2 separate regions of the Homo sapiens genome follow, and region 1 is linked to region 2. Evidence: fine-mapped expression QTL. A gene starts in region 2. The other region holds a variant in brackets. All regions are shown on one strand. Distances are from middle to middle. Region 1 overlaps ZNF583 (zinc finger protein 583). Region 2 holds the start of ZFP28 (ZFP28 zinc finger protein).

What was found. PIP is the estimated chance that this variant, and not a neighbour inherited with it, causes the effect.
Region 1: its variant is fine-mapped to the expression of ZFP28 in lung (TOPMed, PIP above 0.99). The same link has a PIP of 0.9 or more in nucleus accumbens.

Annotation. Positions count from the first base shown.
Region 1 is chr19:56,416,933-56,422,177 of GRCh38, forward strand. The region is part of intron 4 of ZNF583 (zinc finger protein 583); the gene reads left to right. Among named protein-coding and RNA genes, the nearest start is that of ZNF583, 15 kb to the left of the region's middle. The variant G/A (reference allele first, on the strand shown) is at 2,456.
Region 2 is chr19:56,536,089-56,541,333 of GRCh38, forward strand. ZFP28 (ZFP28 zinc finger protein) reads left to right here and starts at 2,860. Exons shown (of 8, transcript NM_020828.2): 1 at 2,860-3,138; 2 at 3,537-3,628. The coding sequence starts at 2,931. ZFP28-DT (ZFP28 divergent transcript) reads right to left here and starts at 2,646. Exons shown (of 3, transcript NR_183967.1): 1 at 2,337-2,646; 2 at 1,563-1,649; 3 at 68-244.

The DNA of each region.
Region 1 (5,245 bases), 120 kb before region 2:
ATGAATCTGATCTTTATTTTTTATTAATTTGCATCTAAAGTAAATGGAATCATTCAGTATGTATTTTGTTATGTCTGGCTTATTTCACTCAGGATAATCATCTTGAAATTTATCTGTATTGTTGCATGTATGAATGCAACATTTCATTTATCCATTCACCTGGTGATGGACATTTGGGTTGTTTCCAGTTTGGGGCTATTATAAATAAAGTTGCTATGCAGCTGTCATGTACAGGACTTTGTGTGAACATATATTTTTATTTTTGGGGGGTAAATACTTAAGATGGAAGAACTGAGTTATATGATAGGTATATGTTTAACTCTGTTAGAAACTGTCAGTTTTCTGAAGGAATTATACCATTCTTCTAGCAGTGTATGAGACTTCCAGTTAATCCACATTCTCACCAAATCTTGGTATCGTCAGTAGTATTTTTAATTTTAGTCATTCTAAAGGTTGTATTGTGGTTTTAATATGCATTTCTGGAATGACTAATAATGTTGAGCCTCTTTTCATATGTTTACTGGCCATGCATATAACTTTTATGAAAACTTTGTTCAAACATTTTTCCCATGTTTTATTGGATTGTTTATCTTATGATTTGTAAGAGTTCTGTATATAGTCTTAAAACAAGTTCTTTATCATTTATATGTATTGGCTTATATGTATGCCAATTATGGCTTGCCTTTTTGTTTTTCTGCTGCCACCTCTGTTGGAGGCAAAGTTTGCAGTTTTTGTAAAATCCAATTTATTAATTTGTCTTGGTTGGTGCTTCTTATATCTAAGAAATTCTTGCTACTCCCAGGTCACAGAGATATTTTTCTAGGAGTTTTAAGGTTTTAGCATTTATATTTAGCTCTGTGAATGATTTTGAGCTAATTTATGTGTCTTGTGTGAGGTAAAGGTTGAGGTTCATTTTTTTTTCCATATGGATATACAGTTGCCCCAAGACCCTTTGTCAGGAAAGACTTTCCCTTCCTAATTCTATCACCTATCACCTTGCTACTTTTCCTGATCATTACTTGACCACATATGTGTGGGTATGGTTCTGGAATGTCTTCTGTTCCATTGATCTATATGTCTATTGTCTCACCAGTTCCATACTGCCTTGATTACTGTAGCTTTGTAGTAAGTTTTGATACCAGATAGAGCAATTTGTAAAATTGCCTTGACTGTTTTAGATCATTTGCATTTCATATAAATTTTAGAATGAAGTTGAGAATTTCTGCTCAAAAAACTTAGATTTTTGTTGGGATTACATTGATTCTGTATGTCAATTGAAAAAAACTGACCTCTTAACATTGAGTCTTCTAATATAAGTATGGTTTATTAAGCCATTTATTAGTCTTTAAAAATGTCTTGAAGTTGGGTGTAATGGTGTGCGCTGGTAATCTCAGCTACTTGGGGGGCTGATTTGGAAGGATTGCTTGAGTCCAGAACTTGGAGACTAGCCTGGACAACATAGCAAGACTCTGTCTGAAAAAGAAAAAGGAAAAATAATAAAATTTATCTTAAGAATATTTTGCAGTATCCAGTGTAGTGGTACTCTGTTAAATTTTTTTTCCTAAGTCTGTAATAGTTTTTTGAGTGCTATAATAAATAGAATTTTTTTTAACAATTCAGTTTTCTAATAGTTTGCCACTAGTAGGCAGAAATGTAAATTGATTTTTATATTAGCTTTACATCTTATGACCTCGCTAGATTCATTTAATGGTTGCCCTCACAGTTATTTTGTAGGTCCATGAGGATTTTTTGGATGGACAATCATGCTATCTACAAATACAGTTTTTTTTTCCTTCTGATCCTTATACCTTATTTTTCTTGATATATTGCAATGGCTAGGACCTCCTATATAATGTGTAATTGAAGGGGTAAGAGGAAATGTACTTGTGCTGTTTCAATCTTAAGGGAAAACGTATTCTGTCTTTTACTATTAAGTCAGTGTAAGCTGTCAGTTTTTCTTAGATGTCCTTGATCAGTTTGAAAACGTTACTTTCTATTCCTGGTTTGCTGATAATTTTTATAATAAATGGATCAGATACTATTTCTACATCTGTTGAAATGATCATGTGATTTTTTTTCTCTTTAACCTTTTAATATGGTGAATTACATTGATTGATTTTCAAATGTGAAACCAATCTTGCATTTTTGGGATAAACTCTACTTGGTCAAGATCATGCTGTTAATATTTTCCTAGATTTCATTTGCACAGTTTTATTAAAGATTTTGCCTTATGTACATGTGCTACATTGGTCTGCAGGTTTACTTTTTTTTTTTTTTTTTTTGAGATGGAGTCTTGCTCTGTCACCAGGCTGGAGTGCAGTGGCTCAATCTCAGCTCACTGCAACCTCCACCTCCCGGGTTCAAGCGATTCTCCTGCCTCAGCCTCCCGAGTAGCTAGGACTACAGGCATGCGCCACCATGCCCAGCTAATTTTTGTATTTTTTAGTAGAGATGG[G/A]GTTTCATGATGTTGGCCAGGATGGTCTCGATTCTTGTCCTCGTGATCCACCTGCCTCGGCCTCCCAAAGTGCTGGGATTACAGGCGTGAGCCACCACGCCCAGCCTGCGGGTTTACTTTCTTATAATTTTTTTATCTGGTTTTGGTATCAAGATAATACTGGCCTTATGAAAACAAGTTGGAAAGTGTTTATCTTTCTCTATTTTCTGACAGTTTGAATAAAATGGTATTATTTCTTCTTTAAATATTTGATAGAATTCACCAATGAAGACATCTGGGCCTGAAGTATTTTTTACATAACAGCTTTAATGGATATAGGGTTAATCAGGTTATCTGATTTTTGTTGAATCAGCTTTGGTAGGCTGTGTCTTTCAAGAGATTTCTGTGTTTCATCTGAGTTTTTCAATTTATTAATGTTTTTAAAAAACAGCTGTAGGCTATGTAATGATAACTCCTCTGGTGTTGCTGATATCTGTTCTTTTTTTCTTGATAACTGATGTTTTAAAAGAACCTACTTTTGTTTTATTTCCTCTGTTGTTGTTTTTCTATATTGTTAATTTTCTTTCTTAACTTTTTCTTCTACTTTCCTTAAGTTTACTTTGGTCTTTTCCTCACTTCTTGAGGTGACATCTTAGATTATTGATTTTTAGACTTTTAGTTGTTTTCTAACATAAGCATTTGAAAACTGTAGATTTTTCCTTTAAGTACCATTTTAGCTGTATCCCACAGATTTTGATATGTTGTACTGTCATTATCAACCAAGATATTTTCTAATTTCTCTTGTATACTCTGACCCATGATTTATATAGAAATGTGTTTAGTTCTCAGATGTTTGGAGTTGACTAGGTATTATTGATTTAAAAATCAATAACCTCTAACCTCTGTTGAGGTTAGAGAGCATACTCATCTTGGTTTCGGTACTTTGGGATTTATGGAGACTTGGTTTATGCCCCAGAATATAGTCTATCTTATTTACTGAACACATTGTGTGCACTCGAATACATGTTGTACAAGTGTTTGGTGTAGTGTTGTATAAATATAAATTAGATCAAAGTAGTTAACCCTGTTGAGATCCTCTTTGTTACTATTTTTTCCTAGTTTTGTCAGTTTCTGAGCAAAGCATGTGTTAGTTGCCTATTATGACTATAGGATTACCTATTTCTTACACTTTCAATTTTTGTTTTATGTATTTTGAGGCGTTATATTAGGTGCACAGACATTAAAGATTATTTCTTTCTGATGAATTGATCCTTTTATTACTATACGTCTCTATCTTTGGTAATACTCAGTTTTAAAGTCTATTTTATCTGACGTGAATATAGTTAATCTAGCCTTATGCTTACTGTTTGCATGTTACATCTTTCTTTATCTGTATTATTAATGTATTCTTATATGTAATGTGAGGTTTCTATAAACAGCATATAATTGTGTCTTTCATTTTGTTGATTCCTATAAGTTCTGCCTTTTAACTGAATAAGGAGTTCATTAATATTTAATTATTTATATAATTTGAGTTGAGTCTACTATTGTTTTCTCTTTAATATTTCTCATTAAAAAATATTTGCTCATCTCTATCTTCTTTTGGGATGTTTGAATATTTTTTATAATTCCATTTTATTTTATCTGCTGGCTTGTTGTACCTTTTTATATTATGCTTCCAGTGGGTGCTATAGTGCAATGATGCTCAAAATGTCGTCTTGAGACCAGCAGCACCACCTGTGAATTTATTAGAAACGAAGATTCTCAGCCCTCAACCTCCACTAACTCAATCAAAAACTCTGTGTGTGGGGTATAGCAATCTGTAGTTTAGCAAGTTTTATCTAATTCTGATACACTCTAAAATGTAAGAATCATGCCTGTAACGATTATAATATCTATCCTTAACTTTTCAGTCTAATGAGAATTAGTGTTTTTACTTCCTTATTATAGTTTTATCAACTTAATTCTGGGTTTAATTAGATCATTGCTCCTTGGCAGTCATTTCATATTTCTTTTTTGACCCATCAGTCTTCAGAATTTAATTTTCATGTTGACTTTTTATAGGGCATTCATGGGTGTGATTTGCAACTGTTTAGAGAGGAAAGTGGAATTTGGAAGGGCACTGAGGCAGCACAGCGGAATTAGCAGCCTCAATTTAAGTATGTTGCCTTCAGATTCTTTTCCTTCCAAATATCATTATCCACTGTAATATTTAAGTTTAGTGGTAATATTCCATTTGGTTTCAGACATTTACCCCATTCATGCAAGCATGTCATTCTAATAAGAGGATGAATTAGTGTGGTGTTTTATGTCTTATTGATTCAGTATTTATTCCAAAGATACTAAGCACCTTCTATCTGTCCAGGCTATTTTAGGCAATGGGTGTTCAAGGGTGAGAAAAAAACTTCCTGCACATGAATGTTTACATTCTAATAAGAATAGAGAGTAAGTTAACATGTAATATGATATTAAATAAGTTAAGTGCTATGAAGTGCAAAGCAGGAGGAAAGAGAAACATAAGAGTGTGGAATACTTCATATTGGATGTTCGGCAAAGGCCATACTGAAGAGGTAATATGTGAACAGAACCTCAAGTGAAGAAGTGCAATGAGAGAAGGGATCAAGCAGATATCTGTGGAAAGTGCTTTTCAGGCAGAGAAACAGCAAGTCTGGTGCTCCTAAAGTGGAAATAAAGTGAATTCCCATATGACTGAAGTGGAGTAAGCAAGCAAGGGAGTAGTAGAAGATAAGATCAGAGAACACCAGGTCATGTAGAGTTTCATAAACCAAGGTAGGAATTTTCACTTTATTC
Region 2 (5,245 bases):
ATAGGATATAGCAGTCATTTGAGGATAAGTGACTGCTACAATAAGATAAAAAAGGTATTGTCAACTCTGTCAATAAAGAAGATAGATTTTATTGCCTTCTCAAGTAACAGCTTCCCATGTAGGTAGGTAGCAGGTCAAGGCAAGAAGACAGCTTTGCTCCATGATGTCATCAAAGGACCTGGTTCCTTCTATGCCATTTCTCCATCAACTCAGGATGCTGTCTTTATCCACATAGGTGATGCCTCTACATTCCAGAACATGAAAGTATTCTGACATATCTTCCTTGGACATGACATATTTTTCTATGTATTGCTGGACTTTGTTTATTGTCACTTTAGGTAGGATTTTAATGTGTATGTTGTCCCTGAAGATTGGAATTCTTTCCCTACTTAAATTCTTTCCCTACTGTCCTTGTCCAGTTTTGGTATCAAGGGTGTCTAGTTTTAAATTCTCCAGTATAGTTTTATAGGATAAGGATTATTTATTGCTTTGGTATTCATGGAAAAGCCTGAGAACTTATTTAATGATTTTCCATTTCTTCTTGAGTCAGTTTTGGTACTTATAATTTTCTCTATGGTAAGCCCCTGCATATGTTTTAAATATATTGAGATAAGGTGATCACAGTATTTGCAAAATTCTAAAAATTTCTGTGATTATGTCCACTTTTTCATTTCTAATACCATTTCTTTGATTGTTTATTTCTCTTTTTTTCTGCTAAGCCATCTTTAGCATAACTTTCATCCTCATGATGCCAAGGTGGCTGTTTGCAGCGGACCCTATCCTTGTTGGACTGAACAAAGGATGACAAACATGGGAATAAAGACAAAGACAAAAGAGTATATTTGGAAGAAGAGGTCTGGGGGCTCCTTGCTTCCAGTGAACACAGGCCCTGAGCCTTTACAGCCCTTCGTATTTATTAGAGTGAATAGGGAGAAGGGGGGTGGTTGTCGGTCAGTAGCTTGATTTACAGCAGGCTTGCAAGACTGCATTCGTCAACCAATAGGCTCTAGATGTCCCATTAGATAACCTCAAGGAGCATGACACCAGGGAGTGATTGCCTTCAGCAAACCTTCTGGTGGCTGGAGCAGAAGCGACTTTGCCCACATTCTGCATTCATGATAAACAGTTTGCTGTTTGATCATATAGCCTCCAGTGGAATGTTGAGTTGGCCACGATCCCTTTGCCAGCTCTCTACAGCTGTTCTACCTGTTGACATCCTGTGTCATACCCAAGCAGGAAGAAGGTTGTGTGAGATGACAAAAGGCCAGAGTTACATGCCAGCTGTGTCTCTTTCCACACATCCACCAAACCCCCAGCAAATGTGTACTTAAAATTCATTGGTTACAGAGCCACTACTCCTTACAAGGAGACTGGGGAGGTGAGTATTATAAGCTGGGCAGATGGCCACTTGAAGAGCATCAATGTTCTGCTGTGGAAGGAGTGCAAAATAGACACCAGAGAGACCATTAGCAGTGTCTGCCACAGCTATTACATGGCTAGGTCCACCTGACTGAAACTAAGCCTTTTCTATGAGACTGAAGTGCTTTGAGAGAAATGCTGACCTTGTCCTTTCTGCAGCTTGCGGCTTTCAGTCACCCTTGGATTCAGAGATAGAAGTCATCTTAATTCCATCACTGAGGCCAGGAGACCTGAAAGAAATCAATTCAAGAGTAAGGAGACCAGGCGTGCAGTGTGACTGGGCGTGCAGAGGTCAGTGCATCTGTGATGACTGGTGTAACAGCATCACTGCCTGTGAGCCAGCAAGGCCCTTGGCTCCCAGGATGAAGCTCTCCAGTTCTGATAAGGCCCCTGGGGGAGAGACCGGTCCTAAACATGTTCAAGAATAAATCCATCAGCTAACTTCAGACCGTGATTCACACAGGAAGGGAACTTTAAGAGGTCGCCAGGGCTGGTATTTTTGAGACGTTAGGCAGCCCTCTCTGAGGCGATGACAAGTGAATGGCATAAAGGAGCCAGCCCAGACGAAAATTTGGGGTTAGACTATTTCGACCCAGGACGTGCAAATACATAGGTTACAAAATGGAAAATGGTATTTTGGAGGATGGGAGGCCCGTGTAGCCAGAGATAATGGGAGAAGGTGAGGGGGCACCCAAAACAATCCCACAAGCTCTCTACATCCCCCTTCCTAGCCCACACACATCACCCATCAGAGTGATCCTCCGGACTCCGGAGGCCCCCAAGATTGCCTTTCCCTTCCCGGTCGGCAGTGACGCTCCCGCAAGGAGCTGACGCCCAGGCCCTTAGCACCTGTCACAGCCAAGCACCCTTTTACTCCGGCCCTGCGGTCCCACCCCTCGCCGCAAGCCCCGCCTCACCCGGTCTGCCGCTGCGCCTGCGCGACTCCCAGAAGCCTTTGGGGGGTGGGTGTGTAGTCAGAGCGGCCTCTGCTTCCGGCCACACCCAGGCCCAGCGTTGGCCACCACTTATGCGGCGGCTGCGGTCCAGGGACAAGTGAGAGCGACCCGCAGAGGGCAGGACGGACGGGCGTTGCATAGGCCCGGGGCCAAACCGTATCTTGCAACCTGAGCTCCGAGGGCCGCCGCATCCGTCCCTGCTTGGGACTACGCTTCCCAGCGGGCATTGCGCCGAGGCCACGCCCGGTTCCGGCGGCGCTGCCTGCGCACTGGAAGTGGGAAGCGCCGGGCTTCTCTAGGCTGAGGGGCGGGGCGGGGCGGGGCGGGGCGGGGCGGGGCGGGGCGGGGCGGGGCGGGGCGGGGCGGGGCAGCGGGGAGGGGTGGGGAGGGGCGGGGCGCGGCCGGGGGCGGGGCGGCTCCGCGGCGCGGCCCAGTGGATGCCGGGCCATGGGGGAGCGCGCGCGGGGCTGTTCGCTGGGCGTGGCGGGCGGGTGTGGCCAGGGGTGTGGGTCTGTGAGGGACCGGTCGGAAGGGCGTCGCGCGGCCTCGGGTGACATGCGGGGGGCGGCGAGCGCGAGTGTCCGCGAGCCGACGCCGCTCCCGGGTAGAGGCGCCCCCCGCACAAAGCCCCGGGCGGGCCGAGGCCCGACTGTAGGGACTCCAGCCACCTTGGCCCTCCCTGCCCGGGGAAGGCCGCGCTCAAGGAATGGCCTCGCATCCAAAGGCCAGCGAGGAGCGGCCCCTACGGGGCCTGGGCACAGAGGTGAGAGTGACAGGTGTTTGGGGCCGAGCGGACAGGGACGAATTCATCTCGGGATGAGATCTGGGAGGGGGTTGGGCTCTCGGGGACCAGTTGCTGGAGAACTGTGCCCCTGGTCTTTGAAGCTGGTGGAGTGGGAGAATCTGAAGATTTGGAAGCTCAACTGATTCAGAGCAGCAAGCCGCGGTAAAAGGGTGTTGACTTTCCCAGGGTGACTCTAACTAGACGCTTTTCCTGTTTTCGTGCTCCCAGGGAGGAAAAAAACCTATCTCCACGTTGTGGCAGTCCCTAGGCAGGGTAATGATCTGATCCCACCTTTTCATGCAGGAAGGGACGTTTCTAGGCTGGTGATTTGGGACTGTGGTGTAGACCTGGTCTCTAGCTACTCCTTTCTCTTTCAGCTCTGCCTTCCAGGGACACTGCTCTTCCCCAGGAGAGAAACAAGAAGCTGGAGGCTGTGGGGACAGGAATTGAACCTAAAGCCATGTCCCAGGTGAGTTGGCATTTCATCTCTTGTCTCTGAAATGCAGTCTTGCTTTTCGGGACTTAATGTTGCTTATTTTCTTGAAAGTTTTCAGTTTAAGAGACCTGTTTGGGCGCGGGTTTCTATTTCTTCACGTTCTAGTGAAGTGATGGGCTACGGGGAAAAGTTTAAACTGCCCGGGGCCTCGATGCCTGCTTCTTCTTCATCCCAATCAGCCTTCATTCTTGATTGATGAAATGATTCAGCCTCTCCCTTGTACCGCTTTTCTCAGAGGGACTCTGATGGAGGAATTGTGCCCCTTGAGGAACACGGCAGACTCTTCTGCTATACATGGTTTGTTTGGTGACCACTTTGTGCCAGCCACTGAGCAAACCAATAGCTAAGCCCTAGTCCCTGCTCTGGAGCTCACAGCCTGTTGACCCAATGTCAAGGAAACAAGCAAGATTCTAGAATGTGATCATCCTTGGGCCAAGTATTATGAGCGAGGACTACAAGGCGCTCCTGGCTTCCAGCCTCCTGTAGCGGAAGGGTAGGCCTATTTACCAAGGAGGTGATTTTTGAGCCTTGCCTTGAAGGGAGAGAAGATGTTTGGGAGGCACAGTAAAGAAAGACAACATTTTAGGGAGAGGAGGCGCAATATGAAAGGCTTTTCCACTTGATTTTGTGGCTTTAAAACATGCCAGTAAATAGTTGTGTTTGTTTCGGTTGGCTTCTCCTATAAATATCATAGCTAGCTCATTAATAGATGAACCATTTCACTTCCACTGAGGCCTCAAAAAATATATGTACAGATGAACCAGCTTCCAGTTGTCCTACCCAAACTGCTCTTGAGTGGGTTACTGTGATCTTCACATTACCAGATGCAGTGCTCAATTCTTAGTCTTTTTTGACTATCATTGGTATTTGAAATAGCTCAGAGGCTGGCAAACTTGTGCTGGATGAGGCCACAGCAGAAAATATGTTAGGCTTTGAAAGTCCTGCTGCATCTACTCCTTTCTGCTCTTATAGAGCTAAAGTAGCCAAAGACAATATGTAAATGAATGGATGGGCTGTGTTCCAGTAAAACTTCAGTTACAAAACAGGTGGCTACCTATCCCTCAAATAGCTCATCCCTGTCCTTCAATAGGCCCCCTTTTTTCCCTTGGCTACTGGGATCTCACACTCATCTGACTTTCATCTTCCTGACTGCTCAGTTTTTGCCACAGTTCTTACCTCCGTGACTTGAACAGAGTGTGCCTCAGCACTCTGCTCATGGCCCTTTCTTTTTTTGTCTGCATGCTGTCTCCTGGGGATAGTAGCCTGTTCCTTGTCTGTACAACCTACCCACATGGTGGCTCCTCCCAGATTCACATTGTGAGCCCAAACCTCTCCTCTGAGCCGCCGGCCTGTGTATCCTGCTCCACTCCTCTGCCTGAGTGTCTGATGGGTAACTCAAGACAGCCTGTCCAGACCCGAAGTCCTGAGAGTCTCCCATAAACCAGCTCCTCCCACAGTTTGAGTCTTAGTCAGTGGCCGTTTCATCCTCTCAGTTACTCAGTCCGGAAGCCTTGTCATGATTGGCTCATTTCTTGCCTTTTCCTTCCATATTTGGTCCTGATGCAAATCCTGTCAGTTCTATTTGCAAAT